Regions from separate parts of the Homo sapiens genome. Here regions 2 and 3 are each reported to be linked to region 1. Evidence: microRNA targets listed by miRTarBase, many of them from high-throughput screens and not tested one by one. Region 1 holds a microRNA gene; each other region holds the end of a gene's coding sequence.
Evidence for each region. Region 1 holds the annotated microRNA hsa-miR-100-3p (CAAGCUUGUAUCUAUAGGUAUG, at 5,259-5,280, opposite strand). A microRNA usually pairs through its seed, bases 2 to 8, with sites in the 3' UTR of a target mRNA and lowers its output. Matches are read on the target gene's strand: a 7mer-m8 pairs with bases 2 to 8, a 7mer-A1 pairs with bases 2 to 7 and ends in A, and an 8mer does both.

Region 2: the mRNA of HIVEP3 is a reported target of hsa-miR-100-3p. Seed matches in the 3' UTR shown: 7mer-m8 at 3,436-3,442.
Region 3: the mRNA of CXCL8 is a reported target of hsa-miR-100-3p. The part of its 3' UTR that is shown has no 7-base or 8-base seed match.

Annotation. Positions count from the first base shown.
Region 1 is chr11:122,146,982-122,157,383 of GRCh38, forward strand. MIR100 (microRNA 100) reads right to left here and starts at 5,327; the gene lies at 5,248-5,327. It overlaps MIR100HG (mir-100-let-7a-2-mir-125b-1 cluster host gene), which reads right to left. Exons shown (of 5, transcript NR_137179.1): 4 at 8,570-8,651. MIR10526 (microRNA 10526) reads right to left here and starts at 5,175; the gene lies at 5,122-5,175.
Region 2 is chr1:41,504,233-41,514,634 of GRCh38, forward strand. HIVEP3 (HIVEP zinc finger 3) reads right to left here. Exons shown (of 9, transcript NM_024503.5): 8 at 8,584-9,518; 9 at 2,133-7,034. The coding sequence ends at 6,219. Among named protein-coding and RNA genes, the nearest start is that of EDN2, 25 kb to the left of the region's middle. RefSeq lists an enhancer at 8,796-9,296.
Region 3 is chr4:73,741,871-73,752,272 of GRCh38, forward strand. CXCL8 (C-X-C motif chemokine ligand 8) reads left to right here. Exons shown (of 4, transcript NM_000584.4): 3 at 79-162; 4 at 579-1,846. The coding sequence ends at 594. Among named protein-coding and RNA genes, the nearest start is that of CXCL8, 6.5 kb to the left of the region's middle.

The DNA.
Region 1 (10,402 bases):
TCACTAAAAGATGGATATATAAGAAGAAATGGCTTAAACCAAAACACAGTGAAAAGACATAGAAAACATGATTCTGAGCAAAATACAGATTAAGAAATACCGCAAAAGCTATATTGAACATCCACCCAACAATATTTATCATGTATTTTACATAATTCTCATATTTAGAAAGTGCTCCTTTTTCCAGAGTTGACTGTTTCAGCATTTCTCATAAATCTGTCCCCAACAGTCTATTCAACAACCTACAAAATGTGCCTATTTCCCTGTTTGCACTTGTAATTTTTTTTTTTTCCAAGACAGAGTCTTGCTCTGTCACTCAGGCTAGAGTGCAGTGCTGCGATCTTGGCTCACTGCAACTTCTGCCTCCCTGGTTCAAGTGATTCTTCTGCCTCAGCCTCCTGAGTAGCTGGAATTACAGGAGTGTGTCACCATGCCCGGCTAATTTTTGTATTTTTAGTAGACACGGGGTTTCACCATGTCGGCCAGGCTGGTCTCAAACTCCTGACCTTGTGATACACCCACCTCATAATTTTAAACTGAATCTTTCTTGTATCTTCAGTCCCAGGCAGGTGCTGGAGCAGGAGATAGGCTCCTACAAGCTTAGCAACTTCTCATTTCTATGTAAACTCAAGTTTGGTCAGGTCTATATTTTCCCACAAGGACTGCTCTGTGGTCTATCAGAAGCCACCTCTCCTCATTGCTTAGCTGGACTCTGGTTTTGCCCAGTAAAGGCTGTGCTACAAAGGAGCTAGGTCAGCCTAGGCAAATAGAGATGGAGGCACATCTGAGCACACTGAGAATCTTCCTGATACTTCTACTGCACTGATCGTGTTCAAAAGACAGATTCAAATGCCATAGCATTGATGTTTCTTCATGTTATTCCACTAGCCTGGAGAAAAGTGATTTTTTTTCCAATGTTTCCAACCCTATTTCCTTATGCTTTGATGAGGTGAAACTGCTTTTTTTGGGGGGCGGAGCGGGGGGGCTGCCTCTGTTAGATCAAGGCTACCTAGTTTGGGAGAAAGACTGGGAGGTTAGTTTTATCAAAAAAAAAAAAAAACTCTCATTCATCCTTCAAGCCTCATTTGAAAGAGTTCTTCCTCTGATTATCTCACAATTTCATATATGCATTTATGCTTTAATTCTCACATCATTGCATTATAGTTTATCTGTTTGTCTCATTCGCTGGACCCCAAGCTATGTGAAAATGGGACCCCATAATTCACCTTTGCCAATCTGGTATTATCTGCAATGGCGAGTAGATGGCACATATAGAAATTTAAAAAAAAAAAAAAACTTTGTCAAATGAAAAGAAGAATATATGCATAAATGGATAAATGGGAGTATAAATGAACTTACAGTTAAGGGATGATCATTTTTATTTTTATGTCCAATCCTTTGTTCTTCCACTTATGTTAGAATTTCACTCATAGTAAGATGGATTTGCTATTAAGATTCCAGAGAGGGCAAAAAATCAGAGTGGCTGAATTCAACCTGGCCGGTTTAACCTTAAATCCCAGATCTCCTATGGAAACTCAAGATGTATTTCCAAGTCTTCTGCTACTAGATGCTCACTTATGTAGAAGATTTAACACTTACTGTGACCAAAAAAGAATATATAATTCATTTTCTTTCCTCTTAATTTGAATTTTTTCATTCACCTTGCAGTGACACTGTGCCTGACTCTGTAAGCACAATCACGATATATAACCCTTATGAATGGGACACAAGGCAGGGGAAGGGCAGTAAGTGTTGACAAAGGAAGACACAACAAAGAGAGGATAAGATCCATGTGCTAGAGTGCTAGTCAATCAGCCACAACATACAGTTCAGAGGGCTTTTAAATACCCAGAAATGGAAAAATTGATCTTTTTCCATGTACGTTCTTATTCTGGGGGTCAAAGATATAAAGATGCTGCTCTTAGAATACTAATGGTTTTCAATACCCTGCTCTTTTGGTTGTGAATTTCCTTGTTTATTTACACTGATTTTAGCCCATTATCATGTATTAGTGCAATTATGGCTCATTACATAATTAGTGTAAATATTTGTAGGCATGTAATAACAACATGCAATTATGATATGGAATGATGTCATAAAAATTCTTATCGAAAAGTACGAGTGAAAAATAAAACAAGAAGTAGTATTTATAGGTGAACAACAGTAGTATATCTTCAGGTAGAGACAATCTATTGTACTTATTAACTTAAAAAAAATCTTCCATACATTCTCTGAACACGTGTAAACAGACTCTCATGCTATCAAACACCGAGGTTTTAAGTGCTGCCAGCAGCAATCCTCCAAACGAAGTAAGGATAAACCTCAAACAATGCTATGAGTGTCTGAGATTAGGAAACAGCAGAGACACCCCATTAGTAAACATATTCTATATTTGATTAGGCATTTGGAAGTTGGACAAATGTTTTGATTAAAACATGGGATTCATTAAAACATGTGTCAGTATGGCTGACACGCAATTCTTCAAAGGGGCCCCTGATCAGATAATTAGTTTTTTGAAGCCAGAGTCATATCTTTGTCCTTTAGCAAAGTGCTGAACACAAAGTAAACATTCATAAAGGTTTGTTGAATGAATGAGAGAATGAAGAAATCATAATTTTTCTAGCCTTACGGCTATGCCCAATGTAAAAAGTGACTTTTTTTCCAATTCATACTTTATTAACTACCATGTTAGGTTCTAATAAATCTTTGAATATCTTTGAAGAGTCATTCACATCGACTTCTCTGTACAAATTCAGTGCTATTACAGGCAGTAGAGGCTTTAAAAATCTTAATTAGAGAGCCTAGGTGGCATTTGATGGGATTAAATACCATAGTCAACAGATAAGGATCCACAGGACCTAACAAATATTGAGGAATGATTCGTAAGCACATTGGAAAACTAAGAAATCATATTAGTTTAAAATTCAAAATTAATTCTATCATACACATACCATTTTTCCCATGTAAAGAAATACATCTATTAATTTTGAAATATAAATAAGAAAACTTCTCAAGCTAAATCTCAGCTTCTCCCTCCTCAAACTCTGATGTTGCAGGGTGAGTTGCTCAGGGTGAGTTGCTTTATCAAATGCATTTCTCGGAATAAGTTTCTTTTCCTGTTTTAAAAAAACAAATCTAAACCATGTCCTGGTATTACATCTTAAATATATTTTGATAGTGATGATTTGAGAAATTTAATAAAACTAGTTTGCTTTATACCCATTCCATTTCCTCCATGCAATAATAGCTGTTGAAATATTTCTTCCAAGCCTTTCTGGGGAAATTCTGAAATTATTTTACTTTCTGCATGATTCCTGTAGGATATTTGGTACACTCTGAGGGAGCCTCAAAGGAATAATTAATATCTACAGAACCATTCATTCATGAACATGGAAGGAGGGAAAAATACTGAATTTCATCATGTAAAATATTTAATATCCTGTTTCTTGTGGCCAATGTCCAGGGGCTTTGGGCTTCCCATTAGAATATTTTCTAACCAGATGAATCAAAGTTTGAAGCCGTTTAGAAACTTTGAAAGGGCCAACTGCTCTATATAATCTTTTTTTCTTGGGATAATGTGTTTTTAAAAACCTCCTTAAAAGAAGTAATCTGGCAGTCACCCACTGGCCATTTTGCAGTCCCAGTATTGTTCCTGTACGGGGAATACTGGGAGCTCATGGTCCCCATGGATCCATGAACTCCACCGCTAATCCCATGGTAGTACACTTAACAGCAGGTTAAAGGATGATGAGTAGAGATGTGATTTTGCCGTTATCAAACAAGTATTTATCTAGTGGAGGTACTGATTTAACTTGCTAGCAGTTTATTCATTCCAAGTTAACCACTTCAAAGAGGCATATAAAACTAACCAAGCAAATTGTTTGCTTTTTGTGTAGATAAAGGCCTTAGGCAAACAATTTATACAACACACACCAATGAGGACAGTCTTTCACTTTGGGTTGTAATATGCCATCATTCTATAATAAAGCAATGCTTTCTTGGCAAGCAGGGGGTTGAGCACCATAGACAACCCTCCTCAGTGCTATGCAAAGGAAATGCATGGAAACAATGTCGTCTTGGTCTAGCAATTACAGAATTCCAAATTCTACCCTTTATACATATGTCATCTGTATCTAGGCTGTCCTAATTCGGAAATGCAAAATCTCATTTCTATATACTGGATAAAAGAAAGAGTTTTAGTTATTCCTGAGTAGGTCTTAAGAGGAGACAGAATTTATCCACTTGAATTTCAAACTTTTCTCTAATGTTAACCCACCAACTACTTCATGTTGACTTTTTTTGTTAGAAGAGGACACACACACACACACACACACACACACACACACACACACACATCTTAAGGGAACTTCTGGCACTATGTTTTACCAAAAGGGCATGCAAAAGTTTTAGAGTCATCCAAATCTGATCAACTTTTCACCCTGGGTTCTAGTTCTGTTTACAGACTCCTCAGCTCACATTGTTGGAATGAAACAAATATAGCCAGTTTTGCTTTGATCTGTGGTCAGTTTAGCTTTTCAATCCTGGCACAATGGTGACATTTAAGAGGCAAGAGGATAAAATTATTTTCATTCCAGCGTTTTAAACAGGATAAAGACTTATAAAACAGCTCTGGCCAAATATGAATTTGGACCTAAACAGGCGATCTCTTTTTTATAAGAAGTCCTTCTTACACTGCTGGATATAAATAGAAGTATAAATAGTTAGGCAGTTAAACACATCCATTCTGATTTATCAGTCCTTATCTTCAGAAGCAAAATTATTGGGGAAATTGGGGGAGGAAGAATTGCAACAAAGGAAAACCCAAAAACCCAAATCACGGTGAAATTGGTCCTGTAAACACATCTGCCACTTTCCAGAAAATATCATAATAACTTTGAAAACAATTAGGCTTACAGAAAACAAAACAAACCCTTGTTTATCTCTTTACTCATCACTCAACAGTAAGTTGTTCCAATCACTCAAATTCTTGCTGCCTCACCTGTAAGCTCAGCCTTCTAATTTGACAGCAGAGACCAGTTACAAGAGATATGGGAATTGAGGGCCAGCCTATTAATTCATCATTGAAGAACCTCATTCATTTCAGGACAAAAGGTCTCCTTCCTCCACCTCAGCCCCCTTTTCCATTTTTATCACTCTTAAAGGAAACTAAGGGGAAGAGAAGGAGAATGAAATAACTCGAAGGGATATTGAATGGCATATAAGCAAAGCCCCAGGTCCGTGAGATTGCCTAACAGACACATACCTATAGATACAAGCTTGTGCGGACTAATACCACAAGTTCGGATCTACGGGTTTGTGGCAACAGGCCTCAATATCTTCTCTCTTTTGGGGCTGTGACATGTCTGAAAATAAAATATTACAACCATTAATCCAATAAAAGAGTCTACCATTCAATTGTTTTATGCCATAAATGGAAAGGACTTCGTCCCACTCTCACAAAAGCAAAAGTTAAGCAATATCTTCTATGTTCTCCCCAACGTGCTTCCCTTGGTTTCCACTTTTTCCACAAATCCAGTGGACTTTAGGTAAACCTCATCATTTTACTGTTTATATATGGAAGACTCATTTATTCACTGCTGAACACATAATCTGGGCAAAGTGATACCAAAATGGCAAACCAGCAGAATAAAGAAAATTCTTTAAATTGTAGGCAGAGAGAAAGAACACATGAGAGCCCAAATGCAAGTCCATTCCTTTAAATACCTGTCATTACATTAAAAATGATGGTGAAATTTTCATTTTCCTATTTGCATTCTGGAAAACAACTAGAATAAACTTAGCAAGTACTACCAACGGATTTATAGGTATATTTTTTTTTTTTTTGAAAACCACTCTAGAGTAGATTTTCAGGTATATTAAGATCCATCTTCGGGAAAAGTTTGCATTTTTGTTCCCACCCCCATCCCATCCCCACACTTATTATTGATTCAAACACCAACAATGAGCAAGTTTGGGTGTACTCTGTAAAATTTGAACCATAGAAGAAATTACATAGTTGTTCCTCCTTCCCCCCGCACCCCCCGCCCCCCGCAATACTGTTTGAAAAAACAGGGATGAATCTGTTTCAGAGACCTTCTTATAAAATGATTGCATTTGTCAACATAACATTTTTTTTCTGCAAAGCCAATGTTCTACATATAAGAAGGGAACATCCAAGACAATGGACTTTCATTAACGACGCCTTTTGTGAATTGTATTGAAGACAGGCATAATCATAAGCACTTCAGGGACATATATTATACAGCTAAATAACTCCCTGTCCTAGATGCTGGGAAACACACATGACTCCATCCCTTTACAGGACCTAAAAAGAGACCTTTTTAACTTTTGTTAGCTATAATTATGGATCCTGGCTCTCAAAATAATTATCTCATTTGCCTCAAAAAATGGACATTCACTCCTTTCTCAAGAATCTGGGGCCAGGCACTGGTGGCTCATGTGTGTAATCCCAGCACTTTGGGAGCCCAAGGCTGGCAGATCACTTGAGGTCAGGAGTTCAAGACCAGCCTGGCCAACAGGGTGAAACCCTGTCTCTACTAAAAATACAAAAAAATTAGCTGGGCATGGTGGCGTGCGCCTGTAATCCCAGCTACTCTGGAGGCTGAGGCATGAGAGTTGCTTGAGCCTGGGAGGCAGAGGTTGCAATGAGCCGAGATTGTGCCACTGCACTCCAGCCTAGGCAACAGAGTGAGATTTTGTCTCAAAAAAAAAAAAAAAAAAAAAAAAAAAGAATCTGGGAGATGAACTGAAGCCCTACCAAGGGGAACAAAAAAAGACAGAGCTGAATTGAGGAATTATTCAGAGAAAAGAGCAGGCCCTCGTGTATGCAACCTAAAAAGTTAAATAAAGAGAACAGGAAACCAACAGTACGATGAACAGAAACTGAGACATAACCATTCATAGATACTTTGTTGTTTCCCCATCTCATCACAAGTGAGCTGTGGTACAATTGCTCAGAGCCTGCTGGTGCTGTGAAGGTTGGCAAAACTGAGAATCTAGTTGTAGCTCTGTGGCTTAATTTTCAGATCCAAAGAAATAACAATAGCAAGTGGAAGTAAGTAGTATCCAAATCAGTCACCCCCAGATGGTCTTTATTTATTTTATTTTAAAATGTTCATTTCCTTTCTAAAATAAAAGACTTTTAAATAAGCTCTGAGCTGCTTCTTTTCCTTCCGTCTCTCTGACAAAGGCATGGGGCTAGAGGTATTTGAGGATGGCCACTTTGAACCCTGTTAAATATTGCTGGAATGTGGGGGATGTAGGTGCTCCTATTATAATGGAGCAGAATAAGCCCAACGTCCCAGAGTAATGAGAATGAATTGTTATCATCACGCTTACTAGAACGATACAATATTTGTTAGCGATAGACTAAGATCTATCAAAGTGGTACACTGAGACATTCAAATAGCACCACTTTCATAAATTTGCATGGCGCTCTTGACCTCCACAGAAAGGAGCTCAATGCTGCGTTTCAGCTGGGGGCAGCTCTCCCTTTCCTTGGCAAATATAGAACAGAGAGAAGTTTTTCATTTCAAATGGTTTGTAGTGTTAACCTCCAAACAATCCAAAGTTTCCATTTTAGAAAATAAAAGAGCAACCAGAAGATACCCAGGCTGCAGGAAAAAAACGAGAAGAAAATCAAATACTGACCTAGTAAAGGGATGGTTTGTTTGGGAGTAGATATTTTTCTTAAAGTATTAATTGAATACGTCCTTTAAGAATCTTCTTTGTGTTGAGGAGGAAAATGAGGGGTTTTTTTCAGAAGAAATTTTGGCTTGCTTCATTAAGCAAGAATCCGTGGGCTCTCTTAGTAATATTAACAAGTTGGAAAATATGGGTTAATGCTGATAAGCAGTGACAAAGGCCGAGTAATGTAACTTATAAAGCAAATATATAATTTATGTTATTAAACATTTTTAGGTGGCATAAAGCCCTTCAATGACACTAAAAGGAAACTGCCTGTATCATGAAAGCTAAGATCAAATCCTACTCACTGAATATATGCATGGGAATAGTTTCATAAAGTGCCATATAGTATTGCCAATCTATGACTAAAGTAAAAAAAAAAATCAATATTGTTATTATGTAATTTATATAAGCTCTATCTTCCAGGAATTCAGAACACATGGTAGGCTTTTTAGAGCCAATCCTGTAATACTTATATTTTTTCATTCAAATGCCCAAGATAGCGACAGAGTTAAGGGGCAGTGCCTGCTAGTTTCAAATGCTTATGATTGCTCAGAGCCTGCTGGTGCTGTGAAGTTTGGCAAAACAGAATTTAGTTGTAGCTCTATGGCTTAATTTTCAAATCCAAAAAACCAAGTGCTGTTCAGTAATAAATTTCTAAAAATTTTCCAAACTCCATAGAGTTGAATGTCATGCCTGCTCTACTCCTTGGCTAGGAAAATTATAAAACTGGTTTCTTTTTTAAAAAATTAAGTTTAAAATGTAGTTATTCTTCATAATTAAATCATTCAAGCATGCCCTAAAAATTTGCAATACTTGAGGAAGCGAAAGGTTTGGGAAAATTACAGAAAAACACCATTACCTGAAAAAGGTAACTTCTTATGTAAAATTTTAAACCTGCTTCCATCTTGTTAGGCTAATATCTTCAAATCATCCACGCGCGTCTGGAAAATAAGACATTTACAATATTTTAAAATGGGTTAAGAATTTTTACTTGTTTTTCAGTTGTTTTTTTTTTTTTTTTTTTTTGCCACCCAACTCTTTTGTAAAGTTGAAAGTAACACTAGAACAAGAGTAAAAAGAAAAACAAAAACTGAAATAAAACTATTTCTAGAAAAACATCGGGAACCATTATGTTTACTTCATTTCCAGAACTACGCATAATAAATAGGTTCTGCAAATAAGTAATTTCACAAATCTTTCCTGGAATTCCCCTGGCTACGCTTGGACCTTGAGAACAATTTTACCAGAAAAATGATCAAATAGGAATGTGAAGTCTCGGAATACTCCCATACTTTTGTACAAATGTTTTATACCAAACCACTCACTTGCTAAGCATGATGAAGAGATAGGCTATCTATGGTTAAGAATAGTTTAAGGAATAATCAATGAATTGGGCAGTGATTACCTGGCATGATGCAGCGCCATTGAGACATCATTTTAACTTTTTTACTGTCAAATGATTCAGGAGTCATTATTTCTCTCGGCTGATAGGGCTGTTAAAAAGAAGCAAGTATCCGATTGTGGTGGACTCATGAGTCTATGCCTCTCCACCACAGCAGGATTCCTGGCTTCCATTCCAGTGTCCTTTCATTGGCCATGTTTTGGACGCGGGGTTCGCCTTCCCTTCATTGTCCCTTTACTAATGGAAGGCGAACTCACAGTGCAGCTGCTTGCAAAAAGGAAAATTTATTTGAGTTTTGCCTGGCTGTGGACTTGAACACTGAATCCATGGTGACATCAGCAGAACGACACCAACGGAAAGATTTCCTGCCCTCTACCCCCCTTCCTTTTTAAAAATGTACGTCTTGTACAAAATCTCAGTGGATCTCCTTTGTCCCAAACAGATGGGACAGTTTGACCAGATAATATTTTTTATCTGGGAAGGACAGGAGGAAGGAAGGAAGGAAGGAAGGATGGAAGGAAGGAGAAAAAAAGAGAAAAGAGAGCGGCACAGAGAGAGAAAAGAAAAAAGAGAGAAAAAGAAAAAGAGCCAGAGACAGAGAAAGGAAAGAAAGAGCAAGATAGAGAATAAAGAAAAAATAAAGAGAAGGAAAAAAAGGAAAGAATAAGGAAAGGAAGGAAGGAAGGAAAGAGAAAGAAAGAAGGAGAAAGAAAAAGTAGGAAGAAAGGAAAGAAAAGAAAGAGAAACAGAAAGAAAGAAAGAAAGAAAGAAAGAAAGAAAGAAAGAAAGAAAGAAAGAAAGAGAAAGAAAGAAAGAAAGCTTGTTCAAATCTAACCTTTGTCGTTCACTCTGACAGTGGGTGTCCCCTGAAGCAGGGGAGACACTAGTGTTTGGTCTCCTACAGCTTTTCAGTTTTTCTGATCGTTTCTCTCATCCTTTGCAGTCACTGGTTTTTGCCAAAAGATCCAATCACCTCAACAAAAGAGGCACATCCAGCAATTGCTACTCCAAGAGTAATTCATTGGTGCCAATTGTCGTGCCACGTTTTATCCACCTGGGACATTGCCACAAGGATATCAGACCACAGAGTGGGAGCAGCGCTCAAGGATATGACGCAGAGGCTTTTGGCATCAAAACCAGTTAGCTTAGGTAGAACTCATTCCTTTTTACAAGGAAAAACTGGCCAGAAGGCAGTAGGGAGCGAGGAGAATGGCAAAGCAATGCCATGGCTTTCATGTTTCTTTCGAGCAAATGGAACACTGAAGATTGATGGATATTTATAATCTTCAT
Region 2 (10,402 bases), not on the chromosome of region 1:
TCAGTGATGGCCTCATCTGCCACCTGCACAGCCCACTCAGCACCCTGGACTCTCACTTCCTGATCTCTTTCATCGCACCTCAGCCACACCTGTGGCTGACACGGTCTTCATCCAACGAGTTAAGACAACTCACAACATTTTCCTGTTTTCATCCAAGTGGTCACTTGACCACTGGCCTTTCTCCTTATCAACCAGGCCTCTTTGTTCCCTTCTCAGCGTGTGGGCTCAGTGGCTGGTGGCTTCAACCTCTTCACTCGCCAGTGACTCACCTCCAGTAACTCATTGTCCTTGTGTCCCATGGCCTGGCTAACCCTGGGCCACCTTCCCCATGCCTACAGCCAGCGGCTGAGGACTGCTGGAAAAACCACACCGCTGAGCAGACAGAGGGCAGCCGGCCCGTGATGCTATGCAGGTGCCTTCCCTGTTTCCCTGGCGGCTTCCTCTGGCTCCCCTCAAAGGTCATTCACTCCTACTCAGGTGTCTTTGATCTTCTCACCCAGCAGCTTCCTCAGGTGACTTCACTCTATTTCCCACATACAATCCATTCTTAAGAGTGTCCTCAACTTCCCGTCACCAAATAGACACACTGACTTCATCTGCACTTCCTCCCTCCCCTCCTTTTAGGCCACTGTGGGAGAGGAGTCTACATCTGCTCTTCATCAAGCCAGGCTGAATTCTCATCTCCTCACCAGCCAATCACACACTCAGCTTCCTTTCCCTGCACTCCACGCGCCCCCCAACAACTGCCCCAGCTCTCCCCTGTCTCTAGCCTAGGCCCCTAGAAGGTGTCTGTGTCTGCTACCTCCACTTCCCCACCTTGCCCTCACTCCTCAACCACCACCATCCACAGCCACCATTTATTCACTCAACACTCAGCAGCATCTATGAAGGGCCCACTGTGCGCCAGGAACTGTACTAGTCCAGCTTTCCCAAAAGCCGGCAACAATTCATCCTCTGATTGCTTTGAACGAACAGACCCTCTTAGGCTCTTAGCACTAAACTTCTGGACGGCGTTTACCCTGAGAATCCCCCTTGATCGTCCATTAATATCTCCTTCTCATGGCTCCCTTCGTCCTCCCGACCCTTAGGACTTTTCCAAGGAAAAGTCCCCTGGGTGATGCAGACTCACTCTGGATTAGCACTGTCATTCTCTTCCACCACAGCAGTGATGGCCGCTGTGATTGAGTAACTGATGATGGCCTCCCCTGCTACAATGTGAGCTCCTCGTGGTGGATCTGTGTCTGTCTTGCTCGCTGTTGTATCAATGACTGCCTCTCGTTGGCACTCGGCAAATCATTGCTGAATACAGAAGGTGAGGACTCCCTATCTTTTCCGCCCGTGTAACCCCAGAACCCTGTGCAAAGCCTGCTCGGAAACAAATTGTTGAAGGCTTACTATGTTCCAGGCTGTGTTAGCCACCCTGTATATGCCATCTCATTTAATCCCCACGCCAGCCCTTATAGATGTGGATCATGACCCTCCACTTTACAGATTAGGAAACAGAGGCACAGAGAGGTTAGGTGAGTTGCCCAAGGTCTCACAGGCAGTAAGCGCTGTGCCTCCCCCACTGCCAACACTCAAGAACCAATTCACTACTCATCTTGAAGTGAGGTGAATGGGGGTCCCCCCGAAAGTTAAGTTTATGTCCTAAAGCCTGGAATCTGTGAAAGTGGCCTTGTGGAGGCAGGGTCTGGAGTGATGAGTGTATAAACCAGGGAAGGCCAAGCATTGCCTGCAGCCACCAGAAGCTAGGAGGGGCATAGAATTGATTCTCCTTCAGAGCCTCCGGGAGGAATCAACTTTGCCAACACCTTGACTTTGGAGTTCAGGCTTCCAGAACTGTGAGAGAATAAATTTCTGTTGTTTAAAGCCACCTAGTTCGTGGTGATTTGTCACAGCAGACTAGGGAACAAATACAGGCCCCAAACCACATGGTGCTATATCTGGTGCTTCCTCGCGAGGCCTTTCCAGGGTCTGCAAGAGTGTCCTGGGCTGTGTGACCGCAGCCTAGTCACCTCCGCTCTCTTGGCCTGACTGCTCTGAAGCAAAATGAGCACTTGGGATGCCAAGTATCCTTCCAACTCTGACATTGTGGAACCCTCTAGAAAAACCATGAGCCAGGCAAGCAGGGCTATGTTGGGATTTTCAAATTTATTCCAACATGCTAATTCTTTTTTTTTTAAAAAATATCCTCAGGCTGAACACTCAGCCAGAGCTGTAATAAAGGCAATTATTATACTTGTAAAAACTTCTCATTCACAGTACAGATGTAATTTACAACAAAGGTCACACACATCAATACTGAGCATTTTTCCTTTTGTACGTCAGACTCTGTGCTTTAGACCTGCGTGGATTTTTGTTTTTTTTTTTTGTTTGTTTCTGTTTTGTTTTTTCTTTTGCACTGATATATACCATACCAACATTGCAAGATGCAAGTGTGGAAACTGGAGTTTAAATAAAATTACAGGCAAAACTACCCCATCCCAGTGCGGTTGCTGTACATATCTACAGTACAATTTTTGGAATGTATTGCCATTTAAGAACATAGAAACTTTCTACAGACAATTTCACATACAGAATACGTACACCTTTTAGAAAAAAAGGCAAATATTTATCTTACAGAGAGCATTGTATTTTACATTTGCCTGCACGTTTCTTTTTTCTGTTTCTTTTCTTTCTTTCTTTTTTTACATACTAGATTTATTAAAGTGACCATAAGTGCCGAAGCGGTTTTCTAATGGAAAGCAGACTGGATTCACAACACAGAAGCAGAATTGGTGGAACAGGCTTTCGGGAACTTTCTTCCCCTGGTCACACGGCAGATCGGTCCCCAAGGACAGGTGCTCAGCCAGGACTTTTGCTTTAAGAAGGATTTGTCTGGAGAAAGGACTAGAGAGAAATCCAGCTCAGATGTATTGCTCATTCCTCTTCAGAAGGACTGGGTGGGAATGGAGCAGGGGCTAGAGGAATCTGGAAGCTAATTCTTTTAGGCTTTTTCCAACAGAGGGAAGCAGAGGGACTTCTGGGTCTGGAAGTTGGAGCTTACGGAGGCGACAGTGCAGGCAGCTGGCTGCTGTCGGGCTCCTGGAGGGTTGCAGGGGTTGAGCCCAGAGTGAGAGCCACAGGTGCGGGCGGGAGCAGAGAGGAGTGGGGTTACTACCCAGGATGGCCCTGAGATTGCCAAGGGTGAAAGGCATCGTGGAGCGCAGGCCTGGGGGGCAAGGACTCACCAACCAAAGGCAAGGTTTGGCTCTGAAACCTCGACCAGTTGGTTCCTCCCCCACTGCCCACACCCAAGGACCAGGACTAGTCTGTACCGAGGAATGGCCACCCCGCGCATTTCAACAGAGCACGTAGCAGGCATCTGTGCCAAGTCAGCCACTGCCTCCTCTGCTGCTTCCCTCAACAGGCACAATAACATCACAGGCAAACAGGAAGCTTGGAAGTGACTGGGAGCAGGGCAGAAGGCCCAGAGGAGGGCGTGCATGGGGCGAGCGTCTTTCTCCAAATCATGAAGGTGTACCTGTGGGCTGGGGGCTCTGTGCGCAGAGGAGCGGGACTAGAGTCCGGAGGAGGGGGTTAGAGCTGTGCCCAGTGACATATACCCAGGCTGGTGGCATTGGTTCTGTCCCTCTGGGCACGGCATCAATGTGGAGGCAGCCCTTTGGTGAGATTCTATTTGTGCATTTACCCCCATCATTTAGAAATAGTCTCCAGTGACTCCTGGCCCCTGTGGCTTCTCTGCCTGAGCCTGACGGGCCCGGTGACTGCCGGGCCTCTGCCCTGCCGGCTGCACTGTTCATTGCTAGGCTGCCCAGGGAGGAAACCTTGGGTGGGTAGGCTGTTTGAGTACAGGGAGAAAAATGCCCAGGAGAGCTGGAAGGCAGGGTGGGGTGGAGTGGTGTGGGGCCCCCCACCAATGTCAGGGGCTAGTCCACCAGAGCCCCCGGTCTGCTGCTTTGTAGGTCTGGGGCAGGAAGAGCTTGCCCAGGCAGATTTCTAACCTGGGCTGAAGCAATGCCCTTTATGCAGCTCCCAGACCTCAGCCCTTGAAGTCTCCAATCCGTGGGCAGTCCCATGGGTTAGGGCTGAAAGGCAAGGATGAGAAAAGCCCTGGCCTCCTGGGACTTGGAGGAGTCACTTTCTGTCAGGCCACTGTCCAGCAATATGGACAGTGTGGTCCAGGCTGGGCTTGCTGCTTCTCTTGGGGAGGATGAGAGCCCTAGTCTCTGAGGGAAGCAGCCAGGAGCTGCTGGCTAACCCTGATTCCCCAGAACCCTGGAGCACAGTGGACTCCCAGGGAGCCCTGCCTTCTGTCTCATTTTTGTCTTAGCTCTGAGGCAAAGGAGAATGAGTGAACAAGGTGGTCTGGCTGCAGGCTGGACTGTGGCTGGTTTGTCTGTCTAGTAGGGACCAAGCAGGGAAAGGCCACGAATTGGAAGAGGCAAGTACAGCCCCGCACAGGGAACTCACAGAAGGGTCTTAACCCTCCCCACCTACTGTGTCCTGTACCCAAGCAGCTTCAATAGCTCAAGAGCCCTGGGGCAGGCACTTGATTCACACAGCCTGGCTGAGGACTGGGGATTAGCCAGAGAGGTCCCTGCTCTGTATAGGGTGGCATCAAACCCAGCCTTCACGGGCCTCAACCGTAGTCCCTGTGCTGCCCTCCCTTGTAGAAAGTAAAGAAAATCAGTTCTGAAACACTGGGAAAAAGCTCACCTCTCCCAGTTGGGGCGAACACGCTAGAGTTCAAGTTCCATAGTTCAATTTGGGATTTAAATTTCTGGTCCTATTATTTTTCTTACAAAGTAGAGTTTTGCCCCAGGAAATGCAGGGCAGCTTCTTGAAAGTAGAGATGTGGGTAAGGAAGAGGCACTGGCTCACACTGATTGCTTTGGAGAATTCCAACGAGTTAGGACAATTCAAAAATCCTCTAGGTCAAAAGAATCTGTGGTGGCTGGGTGAAGTATCAAACACCATCCTCTCTCTTTTTAAAAAAGAGGTGTAAGACAGCAAACAGGTCCAGGCCGTATCCACCAGCCACAGTTGTGGGTATTTCCTTGGGGTAGTGGAGACAGGGGCAGGGACGGGGGGAAACGGTCCTGTGGCAAAGTGGTCCTGAAACAGTTCCCCGCAAACCTCTGCTGTGGAGAACTGGAAAAACCCAGCCATGAGGGGAACAGGCTCCCTTGTACCCCAGGGACCAAGATGAAACAAAACCCAAAACCCAGTCTCAGGAACGGCCGCTAGGGCTCGGGCCCTGCCACTTCTGCCTTTGTGGGTGGTTTGGTGGTTTTAGAACAGAGGAGGCAACAGGAGAGTGAGGCCTCGGTCAGGGGCTTGGGAGCCAGGGACGGACAGTCAGGGCTCCTTCCCCAGCCCAGGGGGCCAGGGTGGGGTGCAGAAGGGAGGTGTCTGGAGTGGGGGTGCGTGGGTGGGGTGGCCTGCCCACCTGTGGAGTGCCAGGATGGGCCCATGACTCAGACTACCAGAGTATCCAGGAGCCCTTGGGGAGCCAGCCCTCCTCCTTCTACCTGCACCTATTATTTTGTGTTGAAATCCTAGGAAAAGTATCATTTTATTTTCTTGCAAAAAAAAAAAAAAAAAAAAAAAAGGAAAAGATTAGTTTTTCTGGGCCTGCCTGCTGGGGCCTGGGTGGGGGTCACCTGCCTGTGTTTGTGCCCCTCTGCCTGGGGACACTGGCCTTTCTGCTGGCAGAGAGGGGTGGCTACGAGCTGGGCAGGGGGGTGAAGTGGCAATAAACAGGAACCTTGATCGCATCTGTACACAGGAGTGCTTCCTTTTACATTTAATTCTATATTGTTTGAAGTTTCCTTTTCCTTTCTCCCTCAGTGTACCCCTTTCCCTCTGCCAGCCTCTGGGGTGGGTGGCTGCCAACCACAGCGGGGAGGGTCAGGAGGCTTCACCATCAGCCTTTCCCCAAAACCATAAACTATTCACAGCCTCAGACTCCTCGTGGGTTGTTGTTTTTTTTTTAAATGTATGTATGTGATTTGTTTTGTTTCTTTTTAAGCAACAAAAGGTGTAGAAAAAGGCACAGGTAACTGCATACATGGGAAGGTACAACAGATGGGGCCGTGAGAGCTCCTGGACGGAGGGACAGATGGGGCTGAGGAAGTGGGATGATTCGAGGAAAGTGGCTGGAAACGTCTGTTGCTGGACACTGGAAGCCAGATGCTGAAGCAGTTGGAGAGAGGCTAAGCGTTGGGGGGAACCCTGTCCTCAGGCTGATGTGGATGTGCCCTGGGCTCCCCACTTCCTGAGGGCTTGGGGGAGTCCTGCCTGGTCCTGGGTTCCCCGGAGAGGTTCCTCGTCCGGGCTGGGAAGCGGGCAGAGGCCTCTGCCAGGCAGCCCACAGAGCTGCTGCGGTCCAGCGGCGGGGTGGCAGAAGGCTCGGGGTTGGTCGGTGCACGCGGGGACTCCAAGCGGGGGCTCCAGGACTGCGCTGCCCGGCGTCCCTGGGGCGGCCGGGGCAAGGTGTCGGGTGGGGTGCAGGGGCTGTGCGTGGGTGTGGGCTCTGCAGGTGCCCCGGTCCCATGGGGTGTCCAGTCAGGAGGCCTGCCCGGGCCTCCGCCGGTCCTCTCCCTCTCCTTGGGGTAGTCCCCGCCCTCCAGCTCTGAGGAGAGTGTGAATTTGGAGACCTTAGCCACAGGCGACACGGAGGCTGACGAGCTCTCAGTGGGACTCCAGCGGCCTCGCTCCTGGGCCTCCCGGGCCCCTGTCAGGTCGCTGCCACCCCCGGAGAAGCCACTGACCCAGGCTGCGGTGGGCCCTGGCAGCAGGGTGGGGTGGGCTCCTGGCCGGGCCTGCACCATCTGGATCCCACCGATGGGAATCAAGGGACATGGGGCACGGGTCAAGTGCTGGGAGTGCAGAGGCAGGTGGCTGAAGATGTTCTCCTCTGTCCGGGCCAGGATGTGGCCGTGGAAGTCATGGAGGGCGGAGAAGGGTCGGGAGGAGAGAGGATGAGCAGGGCCGGGTGAGCAGGAGGGACTTCGGGACTCGGCCTTCTGCTGGGGTCAGAAAACAAGACAAGGTAAGGTGAAGGTTACATGCTGGGCACATGGGGAGCCGAGGCCTGGAAGTGGGAGGGGGACTCGCCCAAGATCACAGAGCGAGTCCAGGGTCCCGGCTGAGCTGAGCCCAGAACCAAGTTCCTGACTCCCTGCCCACAGATGCTGAGCCAGCTGCCATCTCTGGAATGGGCCATCTCCAGCTCGACAGTGACCATGAGTATGCTCAGGCCCCATGGTCTCCATGCCTCTAGCCAGCATATCTGTCTTCAAAGGAGGGGATACTTGAGCGACGTGGGGCCCTGTTGTCACCCATGAGCCTGGCCTCTATGTGGGTCTGCTGCCTGTCCTGTTCCTAAAATGGTCTTCACCCAGCTTCACTCTTGGACATGAGTTCCCACCTGAGGCTCTTTGCCCTTCTGCTACCTCCAGGAATTTGAATGTGAACCCAAAATTAAAAATCAAGGAAAGATTCCTAGATCAGTGTTCCTCCAGGAGTGACAGGGCTGGGTCATGGCAACACGGGGACAGAGAAGGTGTCGGAAGGGGGTCAGCTGACAATGATGGTGCTATCGGTGGAGGGGTCATGGCAGCTGAGGGGACAGGGATGGTGACTGTGCTCATGGGGTGGCAGCAGTGGTGTGTTGGTGCAATGGTGACAGTGGTGGTGCTGGCCATGGGGATAGTGCTGATGGTTGACAAGGATGATATTGGTTGTGGTGTCTCTGAGAGCACTGGTGACAGTGATATTGGAGATGGTGATGGTTTTGGTTAAGTTGTGCCATCTGCTCAAAGAACACAGGCAGATGGGGATGGGGTGGGGGATGGGGAATTGCACGAGTATTTACAACCTCATCCAAGGCCACACCCCTTGCAAGTGATATGATATCGTTTGGATATTTGTCCCCGCCCAAATCTCGTGTTGAATTGTAAACCCCAGTGTTAGAGGTGGGCCTGGTGGGAGGTGTTTGGGTCATGGGGACGGATCCCTCAGGGCCTGATACTGTCCTCCAGATAGTGATTTCTCATGAGATCTGGCATTTTGAGCGTGTGGCACCTTTCCCCCAACTCTCTCTCTTGCTTCCACTCTGCCATGTGAGATGCCTGTTCCCGCTTTGCCTTCTGCCATGAGTAAAAGCTGCTTGAGGCCTCCCCAGAAGCCGAGCAGATGCTGGCACCACGCTTCCTGTACAGCCTGAAGAACTGTGAGCCTATTCAACCTCTTTTCATTATAAATTACCCAGTCTCAGGAATTTGTTTATAGCAATACAAGAACGGACTAATACGTGGTAGAACCCATTTCCCATGAACTCCAGAGTCCATGCTCTGTGCTTCTGAGGCTAAAATAAAGTTTAATAAGCCAGCTGATTTAGGGCAGCCAGCATGGTGCATGGCACAGTAGGTGCCTAATAAATGTTTGCGAAATTATTAATAACTACTGAGCTGGCAGAGCTGTTTAGTTCCAGGTGTGATACCCAGGAGGGTGTGAACTTGCAACCCCTGCACCCACAGGGGAGAAGCGGCCCAGCCACCAGGGGCAGGAACTCACCCACGGGGAGGCGCAGGTCTCTGGGCTTCTGCTGAGGAGCTTGTGAGGTAGAGGCGCGGGCGGGAAGAGAACCCGTGGGTCCAGCCCCAAGCCTGGGCCATGCTCCCCCGCTGAGGGGCTGCCCGGCCCAGCCAAGGCCCACTTCCCTGGCGGCGCTGACCGTGGTGGTGACTCGGCCTGACCTGGAGACCATCTCCTGGTGGGCGAGTATCTGGGGAGGCCTGGGTCGGTGGTACCCTCGAGTTTGGAGAGCACATGTGCTCGAGGGGCCAGTTCTCTTCCCAGGGGGCAGAGGGTGAGAGGAGACAGCTGAAGTCTTGGAGACCCACAAGGGAGAGCGCCCATGCCCCTTCCTGGGTCCACGTGCAGGCCAGGTGGGCTTGGGGCTGAGGCCTGTGGTTCTCGGGCCGGGGAGCATCGCTGGGGAGATGAGTCGTTTTTGGTTAGCGAGTGTTTGCGGGCTAGTGGTGGACGGCTGCCTGCTTCTTTGCTTGGGGACCACGGTCTTCTTGGGGACACAGGCTTGTAGCTCAAGGCTGAGCCTGTGTCTTTCTCCACAGAGCCCAGAGGGGCCGGTCCCAGCCAGGGGAGGCCCGGCATGCTCTGGCTGGACATGGAGCAGCTGCTGGCTGTCAGGCGCTCAGCTTCCGAGACCGAGCTGCCTCGTGTAGCCTCCGTGCCAGAGGCGGGGGCATCTGGGGGCTGAGGGCCCAGGATGGGTGAGGAGTCTGCCCGCAGTGCATGTGGTGGGCCAGGCGGGGGCGCCTCTGAGGATGGTCTGGACAGCTCATCCTGGCTCTCCTCCTCATCCTCATCCTCGTCTTCGTCCAGGTCTGAGTCTGAGTCCGAGTCCTCCAGGTCCGAAAACTGGTGCTCCTCCACAGCCTCTGAACCCTCTCGTCCTTCCGAGTCCTGGAACAGGTCGTCACTGGTTCCTGAGGGCAAACACAGAAGACCCAAGGTCACAGTTGGGCCTTGGCCCCACTGCCCACACGGCTGCTCCTCTCTGAGCCCCAGTTTCCTTGCCTGCTGACTGGGCAAAATAGCCATCGCAAGGGCACAAGATTGTTGGGACAACCAAGAAACGTAACAGATATGGGAGCGCTTTGTAAATAATAATGAACAATAATTCCCTTATGCCTAGAATGTGCAATGTTCAGTTCTGAGAGCTTTAGGTATATTTATTCATTTAGACCTCAGAGAATCCTGTGAAGCTGGTACTGTTCTCATCCTCATGTTACAGATGAGGAAACTGAGGTAAGAGAAAGTAAGTAACTTGCCCATGGAAGACAGCAGTAGGGCTGGGATTGAGCCATAGCAAAGAAGACAGTCTTTGTTTGTTTGTTTGTTTGTTTGTTTGTTTCACTAGCATCTCAGTGCTGGCTTCACCATGGGCAACTTACCACCTTGCTCTGCTTGGTCTCCCCCTTTGTCGAATGAATGTGATGGTCTCACCTCACCAGGTTTTCTAGGAGGACTAAAATGAAGGCCTGGCACATATTGAGGGCTTAAAAATAATTATAGCTACCATATTAATACATTAATGATGAAATCTGTTATTCCAGGACAGGGCAGTCACACTGGCTGGTCCAGCAGCACAGAGCCATCCGTGGTCAGTGTACACACACATCTGCCACGGTGACCAGGCTCCCGGTGGCTGGCACAATGGCATCTGGCAGGTGGCGGACTCTGGCCTCTGTGGGCGGCTTGACTAAGCTGGCCTCAGGCTGCAGAGCAGGTCCCCATCCCAGCCACGCTCTTATCTGAGGAGCCACTGCCCTTTTGAAGTCCAGGCTGCCTCTAGCCTCGGGGCCCTCCC
Region 3 (10,402 bases), not on the chromosome of region 1:
CTTTATGCCTGACTTAAGGAATCATGATTTGAATGCAAAAACTAAATATTAATCTGAACCATTTCTTTCTTATTTCAGTGTAAAGCTTTCTGATGGAAGAGAGCTCTGTCTGGACCCCAAGGAAAACTGGGTGCAGAGGGTTGTGGAGAAGTTTTTGAAGAGGTAAGTTATATATTTTTTAATTTAAATTTTTCATTTATCCTGAGACATATAATCCAAAGTCAGCCTATAAATTTCTTTCTGTTGCTAAAAATCGTCATTAGGTATCTGCCTTTTTGGTTAAAAAAAAAAGGAATAGCATCAATAGTGAGTTTGTTGTACTCATGACCAGAAAGACCATACATAGTTTGCCCAGGAAATTCTGGGTTTAAGCTTGTGTCCTATACTCTTAGTAAAGTTCTTTGTCACTCCCAGTAGTGTCCTATTTTAGATGATAATTTCTTTGATCTCCCTATTTATAGTTGAGAATATAGAGCATTTCTAACACATGAATGTCAAAGACTATATTGACTTTTCAAGAACCCTACTTTCCTTCTTATTAAACATAGCTCATCTTTATATTTTTAATTTTATTTTAGGGCTGAGAATTCATAAAAAAATTCATTCTCTGTGGTATCCAAGAATCAGTGAAGATGCCAGTGAAACTTCAAGCAAATCTACTTCAACACTTCATGTATTGTGTGGGTCTGTTGTAGGGTTGCCAGATGCAATACAAGATTCCTGGTTAAATTTGAATTTCAGTAAACAATGAATAGTTTTTCATTGTACCATGAAATATCCAGAACATACTTATATGTAAAGTATTATTTATTTGAATCTACAAAAAACAACAAATAATTTTTAAATATAAGGATTTTCCTAGATATTGCACGGGAGAATATACAAATAGCAAAATTGAGGCCAAGGGCCAAGAGAATATCCGAACTTTAATTTCAGGAATTGAATGGGTTTGCTAGAATGTGATATTTGAAGCATCACATAAAAATGATGGGACAATAAATTTTGCCATAAAGTCAAATTTAGCTGGAAATCCTGGATTTTTTTCTGTTAAATCTGGCAACCCTAGTCTGCTAGCCAGGATCCACAAGTCCTTGTTCCACTGTGCCTTGGTTTCTCCTTTATTTCTAAGTGGAAAAAGTATTAGCCACCATCTTACCTCACAGTGATGTTGTGAGGACATGTGGAAGCACTTTAAGTTTTTTCATCATAACATAAATTATTTTCAAGTGTAACTTATTAACCTATTTATTATTTATGTATTTATTTAAGCATCAAATATTTGTGCAAGAATTTGGAAAAATAGAAGATGAATCATTGATTGAATAGTTATAAAGATGTTATAGTAAATTTATTTTATTTTAGATATTAAATGATGTTTTATTAGATAAATTTCAATCAGGGTTTTTAGATTAAACAAACAAACAATTGGGTACCCAGTTAAATTTTCATTTCAGATAAACAACAAATAATTTTTTAGTATAAGTACATTATTGTTTATCTGAAATTTTAATTGAACTAACAATCCTAGTTTGATACTCCCAGTCTTGTCATTGCCAGCTGTGTTGGTAGTGCTGTGTTGAATTACGGAATAATGAGTTAGAACTATTAAAACAGCCAAAACTCCACAGTCAATATTAGTAATTTCTTGCTGGTTGAAACTTGTTTATTATGTACAAATAGATTCTTATAATATTATTTAAATGACTGCATTTTTAAATACAAGGCTTTATATTTTTAACTTTAAGATGTTTTTATGTGCTCTCCAAATTTTTTTTACTGTTTCTGATTGTATGGAAATATAAAAGTAAATATGAAACATTTAAAATATAATTTGTTGTCAAAGTAATCAAGTGTTTGTCTTTTTTTTAGTTTTAGCTTATTGGGATTCTCTTTGTTTATATTTAAAATTATACTTTGATTTAGAAAACATAAATGCTTCCCCTTAGCATTTTGTTTATGGAAAATTACAAACTTTTATTTTTAGAAAACAGAACTCCTTTCCAGAAATAGGTTACAAACAGTAGTGTCCTCCACAGAATGTTGGAAATGTTTTCAACTCCCCACTGTATACTATCTTGCTAATAAGTCTGTCTTCAGATTTCGATTAACCGGTTTGTATGTCTGTGCGCTTTAGCATAGCTGGACATTTAAAGAGGAAAGAGAGTACATATTATAAGTTGCTTATCAGTAACTGAGGAGTAAAACTGATAAATGTGAGGCAAAGAAGTTTAAAATATGGTTAAAGCCTAAGCATATTTGCAAACAAATCAAACAATACTCTGAGAAGTAAAAACATAATTATTTAATTAACAAATTTCAGTGGATAAATTTTATAACAAATTAGACACAGTTGAAAATAAAATTAGAAAACTAGAAAATAGAACCAAAGAACTTCTGGAATTCTTATAAGAGAGATAAAGAGGTAGAAATTTGGAGAAAGAAGTCGAAAGGCGTAGAGGATACAGGTGTAAGCTCTAATAGATGTCTAATTGGATTGTCACAAGCAGAAGAGAGAGGAAAGGGTCAGAGACAACATTTGAAGTGACAATGGCAAAAATCTTTCGGAAATGATGAAAAATAACAATCGATGTTTCAACAAATCCAATGTATCAACATTTACCTTTATATTCCTACTCAAAAAACAAGGATTTTGGAACTTTTACGTTTAACCACCTTCTAGCTCATAGGCTATTGTTGCTGGGTATTTTAAGTTCACTTCTTTTTTTTTTTCTTTTATTTTATTATTATTATATTTTAAGTTTTAGGGTACATGTGCACAATGTGCAGGTTAGTTACATATGTATACATGTGCCATGCTGGTGTGCTGCACCCATTAACTTGTCATTTAGCATTAGGTATATCTCCTAATGCTATCCCTCCCCCCTCCCCCCAGCCCACAACAGTCCCCAGAGTGTGATGTTCCCCTTCCTGTGTCCATGTGTTCTCCTTGTTCAATTCCCACCTATGAGTGAGAACATGCGGTGTTTGGTTTTTTGTCCTTGCGATAGTTTACTGAGAATGATGATTTCCAATTTCATCCATGTCCCTACAAAGGACATGAACTCATCACTTTTTATGGCTGCAAAGTATTCCATGGTGTATATGTGCCACATTTTCTTAATCCAGTCTATCATTGTTGGACATTTGGGTTGGTTCCAAGTCTTTGCTATTGTGAATAGTGCTGCAATAAACATTCGTGTGCATGTGTCTTTATAGCAGCATGACTTATTGTCCTTTGGGTATATACCCAGTAATCGGATGGCTGGGTCAAATGGTATTTCCAGTTCTAGATCCCTGAGGAATCGCCACACTGACTTCCACACTGGTTGAACTAGTTTACAGTCCCACCAACAGTGTAAAAGTGTTCCTATTTCTCCACATCCTCTCCAGCACCTGTTGTTTCCTGACTTTTTAATGATTGCCATTCTAACTGGTGTGAGATGGTATCTCATTGTGGTTTTGATTTGCATTTCTCTGATGGCCAGTGATGGTGAGCATTGTTTCATGTGTTTTTTGGTTGCATAAATGTCTTCTTTTGAGAAGTGTCTGTTCATGTCCTTCATCCACTTTTTGATGGGGTTTTTGTTTTTTTCTTGTAAATTTGTTTGAGTTCAGTGTAGATTCTGGATATTAGCCCTTTGTCAGATGAGTAGGTTGCGAAAATTTTCTCCCATTCTGTAGTTGCCTGTTCACTCTGATGGTAGTTTCTTTTGCTGTGCAGAAGGTCTTTAGTTTAATGAGATCCCATTTGTCAATTTTGGCTTCTGTTGCCATTGCTTTTGGTGTTTTAGACATGAAGTCCTTGCCCATGCCTATGTCCTGAATGGTAATGCCTCGGTTTTCTTCTAGGGTTTTTATGGTTTTAGGTCTAACGTTTAAGTCTTTAATTCATCTTGAATTAATTTTTGTATAAGGTGTAAGGAAGGGATCCAGTTTCAGCTTTCTACATATGGCTAGCCAGTTTTCCCAGCACCATTTATTAAATAGGGAATCCTTTCCCCATTGCTTGTTTTTCTCAGGTTTGTCAAAGATCAGATAGCTGTAGATATGCGGCATTATTTCTGAGGGCTCTGTTCTGTTCCATTGATCTATATCTCTGTTTTGGTACCAGTACCATGCTGTTTTGGTTACTGTAGCCTTGTAGTATAGTTTGAAGTCAGGTAGCGTGATGCCTCCAGCTTGGTTCTTTTGGCTTAGGATTGACTTGGTGATGCGGGCTCTTTTTTGGTTCCATATGAACTTTCAAGTAGTTTTTTCCAATTCTGTGAAGAAAGTCATTGGTAGCTTGATGGGGATGGCATTGAATCTATAAATTACCTTGGGCAGTATGGCCATTTTCATGATATTGATTCTTCCTACCCATGAGCATGGAATGTTCTTCCATTTGTTTGTATCCTCTTTTATTTCATTGAGCAGTGGTTTGTAGTTCTCCTTGAAGAGGTCCTTCATGTCCCTTGTAAGTTGGATTCCTAGGTATTTTATTCTCTTTGAAGCAATTGTGAATGGGAGTTCACTCATGATTTGGCTCTCTGTTTGTTTGTTATTGGTGTATAAGAATGCTTGTGATTTTTGTACATTGATTTTGTATCCTGAGACTTTGCTGAATTTGCTTATCAGCTTAAGGAGATTTTGGGCTGAGACAATGGGGTTTTCTAGATATACAATAATGTCATCTGCAAACAGGGGCAATTTGGTTTCCTCTTTTCCTAATTGAATACCCTTTATTTCCTTCTCCTGCCTAATTGCCCTGGCCAGAACTTCCAACACTATGTTGAATAGATATGGTGAGAGAGGGCGTCCCTGTCTTGTGCCAGTTTTCAAAGGGAATGCTTCCAGTTTTTGCCCATTCAGTATGATATTGGCTGTGGGTTTGTCATAGATAGCTCTAAGTTCACTTCTTTTTAAGAGCTCCACAAGTCTGCTTGTACGTAGGTATGTAGATTTACCTGAATATTTATCAATTCATTTGTTTTCCATTCTTTCTCATGTTATGTCTCAGGCCTTTTATACCAGTTTCTTTCTGCCACAAAGACATCCTTAGAATTTAGTTTAGTGATGGTCTGGTGAAGACAAATTTTCTCATTGGTTGTCCAAAGGAAGCTTAATTCCAAGTTTGTTCTTGAGAGGTATTTTTGCTGGCATATGTTCAATTTGTCAGAATATTTGTCAATTGTAAACTTTTGTGCACTTAATAAAAGAATATCAAAAATATATAATGTATACATTCTTATAACTAGAAGGAACAGGCAACACATAAACAAACCATTGCAATAGGAGACTTACAATAAACTCTTAGTAATTGATTGTCCAAGAAGACAGAAAGCAACATGGGCTTAGCAAATTTTAACAGCACATTATCAAGCCTGACCTAAGAGATATGTATGAGACATGGTGGATAACAACTTTAGGATATACATTGTTGTGTAAGTCCCCATTGACAGGACCGGCTTCATAATTTGAAGAGTGTAATGCAAAATAAAAATGTAGGAACTTGTGTTCAAAAATTATTAAAAATGTAATAGTAACAGTTGTGATAGCAAATCAATAACACATGCATGGAACCCTTCTGAACATGAGCCCTGTACAAGTATACAGGTCCCACACCCATGAAGCAGACCCTGCCCATAGAATATTTATGAAATTTATCACATTCTGAGGCATAAAACAAGTCTCAACAAATTTCAAAGAATTCATGTTATATAGACCACATCATCCAAATATTTTTCAATTCATTTAGAATTCAACCACAAAAATATAAGTACTAAAAAGCCCATATGTTTGGAAAACAATAAACACTTCTAAATAAATTATCTGTGCAAAGAAAATCAGAATGAAAATTCAAAAATTTTTAGAATACAATTATATAAATACTGTATATCAAAACATGTGTGCAGTTGATAGAGTAATGGCATTCCAAGAGATGTTCATGCTCTAACCCGTGAAATCTTTGAATATGTTACCTTACACAGCCAGAGACTTTGCAGGTGTGATTATGTTAAAGATTTCAAGATTGGAAATTATCCAGGAGTATTTGTATGGGCCTGATGTAATTGATATAATCATAAGGGTCTTCATAAGAGGAAGGCAGGATGGTCAGATACAGAGAAAGAGATGTGATCATGGAAAGGAAAGAAGTGTTACAGGGAAAAGCCCAGGAGTCAAGGAATACAGGTGCCTTTAGAAGCTGGAAAGGCAAGGAAATGGATTCTCTCCTAGAGGCTCCAGAAAGAACATAACACATCTACACTTTGGATTGAGAACTTCTGACCTTCAGAATCCTAAGATTTATAATAATAAATTGGTGGTGTTTTATGCCACAAAGTTTATGGTAACTTTCTTTAGCAGCAATAGAAAACATAAACTGTTTAATGAAATTAATTTAATATTACTAGTAAGTATTTTATACTTACAACTGTAGTGATTATATTAGAAAAAAGAATAAAGATAGTAAAATAATAAAAATAGAAAAGTAATAAAGAACTGAGCAAAGCATTAATACATCAACAGAGGATTTACACAAGTTGGTTGTTTTGAAAGAGTAATAAAATTGATAAAATTGAATTGAAAATAAAACAAACTATGATTAACAGCACTAAATTTGAAAAGAGATTAATGGACATATTTCTACAATATTGTATTTCCAAATCTAACTCAAGAATTTAAAAAAAATCTATAGAATTCAATAACAATCAAGGACATATTAATCAATATTTTAAAATATTTCTACTAAGAAAAAAATAAGTAAGCCACACAATTTTATCAGAACTCATTCATAAAAACACATTACAAAAATTTTTAAAGAACACAGTATTAAGACAAAAACATTTAAAGATTTTAATACATCATAACAAACAATACAACTTAATAACTGAATACAACTTAAATAACTGAAGATCAATTAATGAAACTCACAAGCATTGACAAATGATATTAAGGTAGTAAAGGAGAAAAAACTTGATCATCTCAATGGATTCAGAAATAACCTGGGATATGACTTAACATCCAATCATTTTAAAGAAAAAAAATCCTCTAGGAATGAGAGGAAACTACTTTAAACCTATAAAAGTTACAATAAAACAAACAAAAATCACAGCATACTCAAGACTTAAGAGTTAATTTAAAAATAGTAATATATACAATTGAAGCAAAACAGGTTTCCATTATCACCACTTCCATTCAATTTTTTATTGAAAGTCCTGGGCAATGCAGGAAGATAGGAACAAAGATATTAAAAAGTAACAATTGGGAAAGAAAAAAATAAAAGGTAGAACTCAAAAGATTATATAAAGATAATTGATTAACTTTAAACAATTTTGCTGGGTATGAAAACAATTTATAAAAACAAATTGCTTCTCTGTATACCAGGAACAATTAGAAAAGGCAGCTTAAAGCATACTATATAAACTAGCATCATCATTTAAATCAACAAGAAATAAATCTAACAAAGCTGTGTAAGAAATGTGTGAAGAATATTATTATACTTTATTAAATCCCCAAGATTGGAGATCATCCTATAAAAACCCTAGAAGACAACTTAGGCAATACCATCTTGGACGTAGGAGTGGGCAAAGATTTCATGACAAAGATAACAAAAGCAATCTCAACGAAAGCAAATGTTGACAAACGATATCTAATTAAACTTAAGAGCTTCTGTGCAGCAAGAGAAACTATCAACAGAGTAGACAGAGGGTGGAGGGTGGGAGGAGGGAGAGGAGCAGAAAAGGTAATTATTAGGTACTAGGCTTAATACCTGGGTGATGAAATAATCTGTCTAACAAACCCCCATGACAGGAGTTCACCTATGTAACAAACCTGCCCACATCCCCTGGAACCTAAAATAAAAGTTACAAAAAAAGTCATCAAAGGAAACCTAAAAATAAGGTAAATATAACATGTTGCATGAATTGGAAATAAATCTTGTAAAACAGATGTCACTTATTTCCCAATTAATTTACAGATCCAATGAAGTTCTAATATAATTTCCAAAATCTATGTATGTAATTTGTCAAGACGATTTTAAAATTTGTCTTGAAGTGAAAGGTTCAAGAATATCTGAGACATCTTTGAAGAAGAACAAGTTGAGACACACTCTTATTAAAGCATTGGGGTCTCATTCCCAGTAGCCTTTAGAGAAAATTATAGCTGTTAGCCTTGACGGGAAGAGTTAGACGAGGTGGCTTATTGAATTGATTCAAAGCCAATCAATCTATGTGAAAACACTGGTATTAGTAAGACATCTAAAGACTGCAAGGAAGACATAGGCTGAGATACTTTCATTAATCAGGTTTGCATATTCCAGATGATCTGAAGTCACAAAGGGTTCCCTCTTTCTTTCGTATTTAGAAAATATGCTATAGGACATTTAGAGTGAGGAAGAAAGTCTTCTCTTATTTTCTCACTAGTTAGTTCACATTGCAACCTGCTTTTCCTATGTCATTTAGCTTCTTAACAATTGCTCTGGGTACCTATAGTTGCTATTATCTCTCTGGTCTCTTTTATAACTCCCAGTGCATATTAACACATAGGTATTCAGCATAATAGAATCAATGCAAGATTTAAAAGTGACACACCAGTAGGAACCAACTGAAAATTCTACCTGGTATTCGCTGTTTAGAAACAACTTCGTTGTTTCCCTTTAGAAGAGGATTTTTTCCTGCCTATATTTCTTCTCTTGCTATGTTGCGGGGCTTCTTTTTCTTCAGGGTTCTGCCTAATCTTCGTTTCCATATTCTCCTCTTCACATTCAAGATCCCTTGTCCCACTCCCATTTTTCAGTTTCTCATCTTGTGTATCTCATTGATAAGTAAATAAAACAGATAGAAATAAGTAAGTTTAATAAAATATTGCTAGGAGATGTACCAAAGTTATTTGCATGAAAGTTGATCATATGAATTGGATCATTTTTGTCACTCAACTAAAACAGAGTTGGGAGGCCAGGGAGGGGGTGGGGTGGGGGGAAAGCACCCAGCACAAAACATTGCTCAAAAGATGTAATTCTCTGCAAGCTGGGCAGCTAAAGCTGCCTGCTATAACCTGAAACCAGTTTGATCTAACTGCTGAAAGCTGCTCAAACTCTCTGACTAGTTTTGCCCACTGCTGTCACTTACCTATCAGAGTTTGCTAGAACCTTAAAATCTTACTAGTGCTAATGAAATTTCTCAAAGAGCAATATGTAACATTTTCCCATTTCATAAAATCTTGAACCTTCTCCTTGTTATCCAGAAAGCACACTTCCACTTGTACTAAAAAGCATGCCTCCCCAATCTATAGATTTAAAAAAATTATAAAAAATAAAGCTCTACTCCTTTCCCTCTACAGATCTCATGGTCTTTGGTTAACATTTGGAAGCAGGCAAGCAGGGGTTATCTAATCTAACTAGCCTAGATTTCCATGAGAACGTTTAGAGTCTGAAGCATGAGTAGGAGTTAGCCACACAAAGGGAAGAAGAATGTGTAGGAAAGGAGTCTAGACAGTGAGAAAAAGTAATGTGTAGGCAAGAGCTTGATATGATTTAAGAAGTGAAAGAATTTCAGTATGACTAGAGTTTGGCGTGAAACAGAACAAGTGCTAACAGCTAAAGCTAAGACAATAGACAATACATTGCTCTAAAGGGCTTAGAGTTAGAATGGAAAACTTCTAGTGCACTCCAATTTGCCTAATTTTGAGTTGTGAACACTACATGCCATTCTTCCTCCGAGGTGTTTCCAGATGGAAGTGGGAGGCCACAAAAGCAACCTAAAGTGCTTAATCTTAGAAACTTCTTCGTGCCATTTGGAGATTGAATCAAAGAACTAACTTCTGACTCTAAACAAAACCTCTTAATGTGAGGTTTTAACATCATATTAATATCATCAGTATCCAACCCTAAAAGCAAAATGAGAATATCTGTACCAATTCAGTGTATCTTAATAATGAATACTTTTAAGCACTACCTCTCAATTCCATCTTTATCACCTTTAAAATATGCCAGATTATTTCTTTACTTTCTCATCTATATTGTCACTGTCTACAAGACAGTGAAGTATTCCATCTAAAAGGCAATCAAGTAGGTCAAATTGAAAATGTGCCATCATGTAAATAAGCCAAAAAAAGGAAAAATGAAAAAGAGAGGGAGAATGTGAGCATGTGAGTGAGAGAGAAAGGTCAAGCAATTTGCTGAATTAACATTTTTTGCTTTATTTTTCTTCAATGATAATAGTAATGTATATAAGGATGTATATAGATAGTTGTATATGTATAGTTATGTATACAAATATGTATTTATTTGTATAGACCCAGCCTTAGAAACAAACTACATGAAAGATATATTATCACATACCGTTGATCCATTTGTGTGATCTTAAATCACTTGTCTAATTTTACTGAATAGAAGCATGAATTTAAATATACAGAAACACACAAA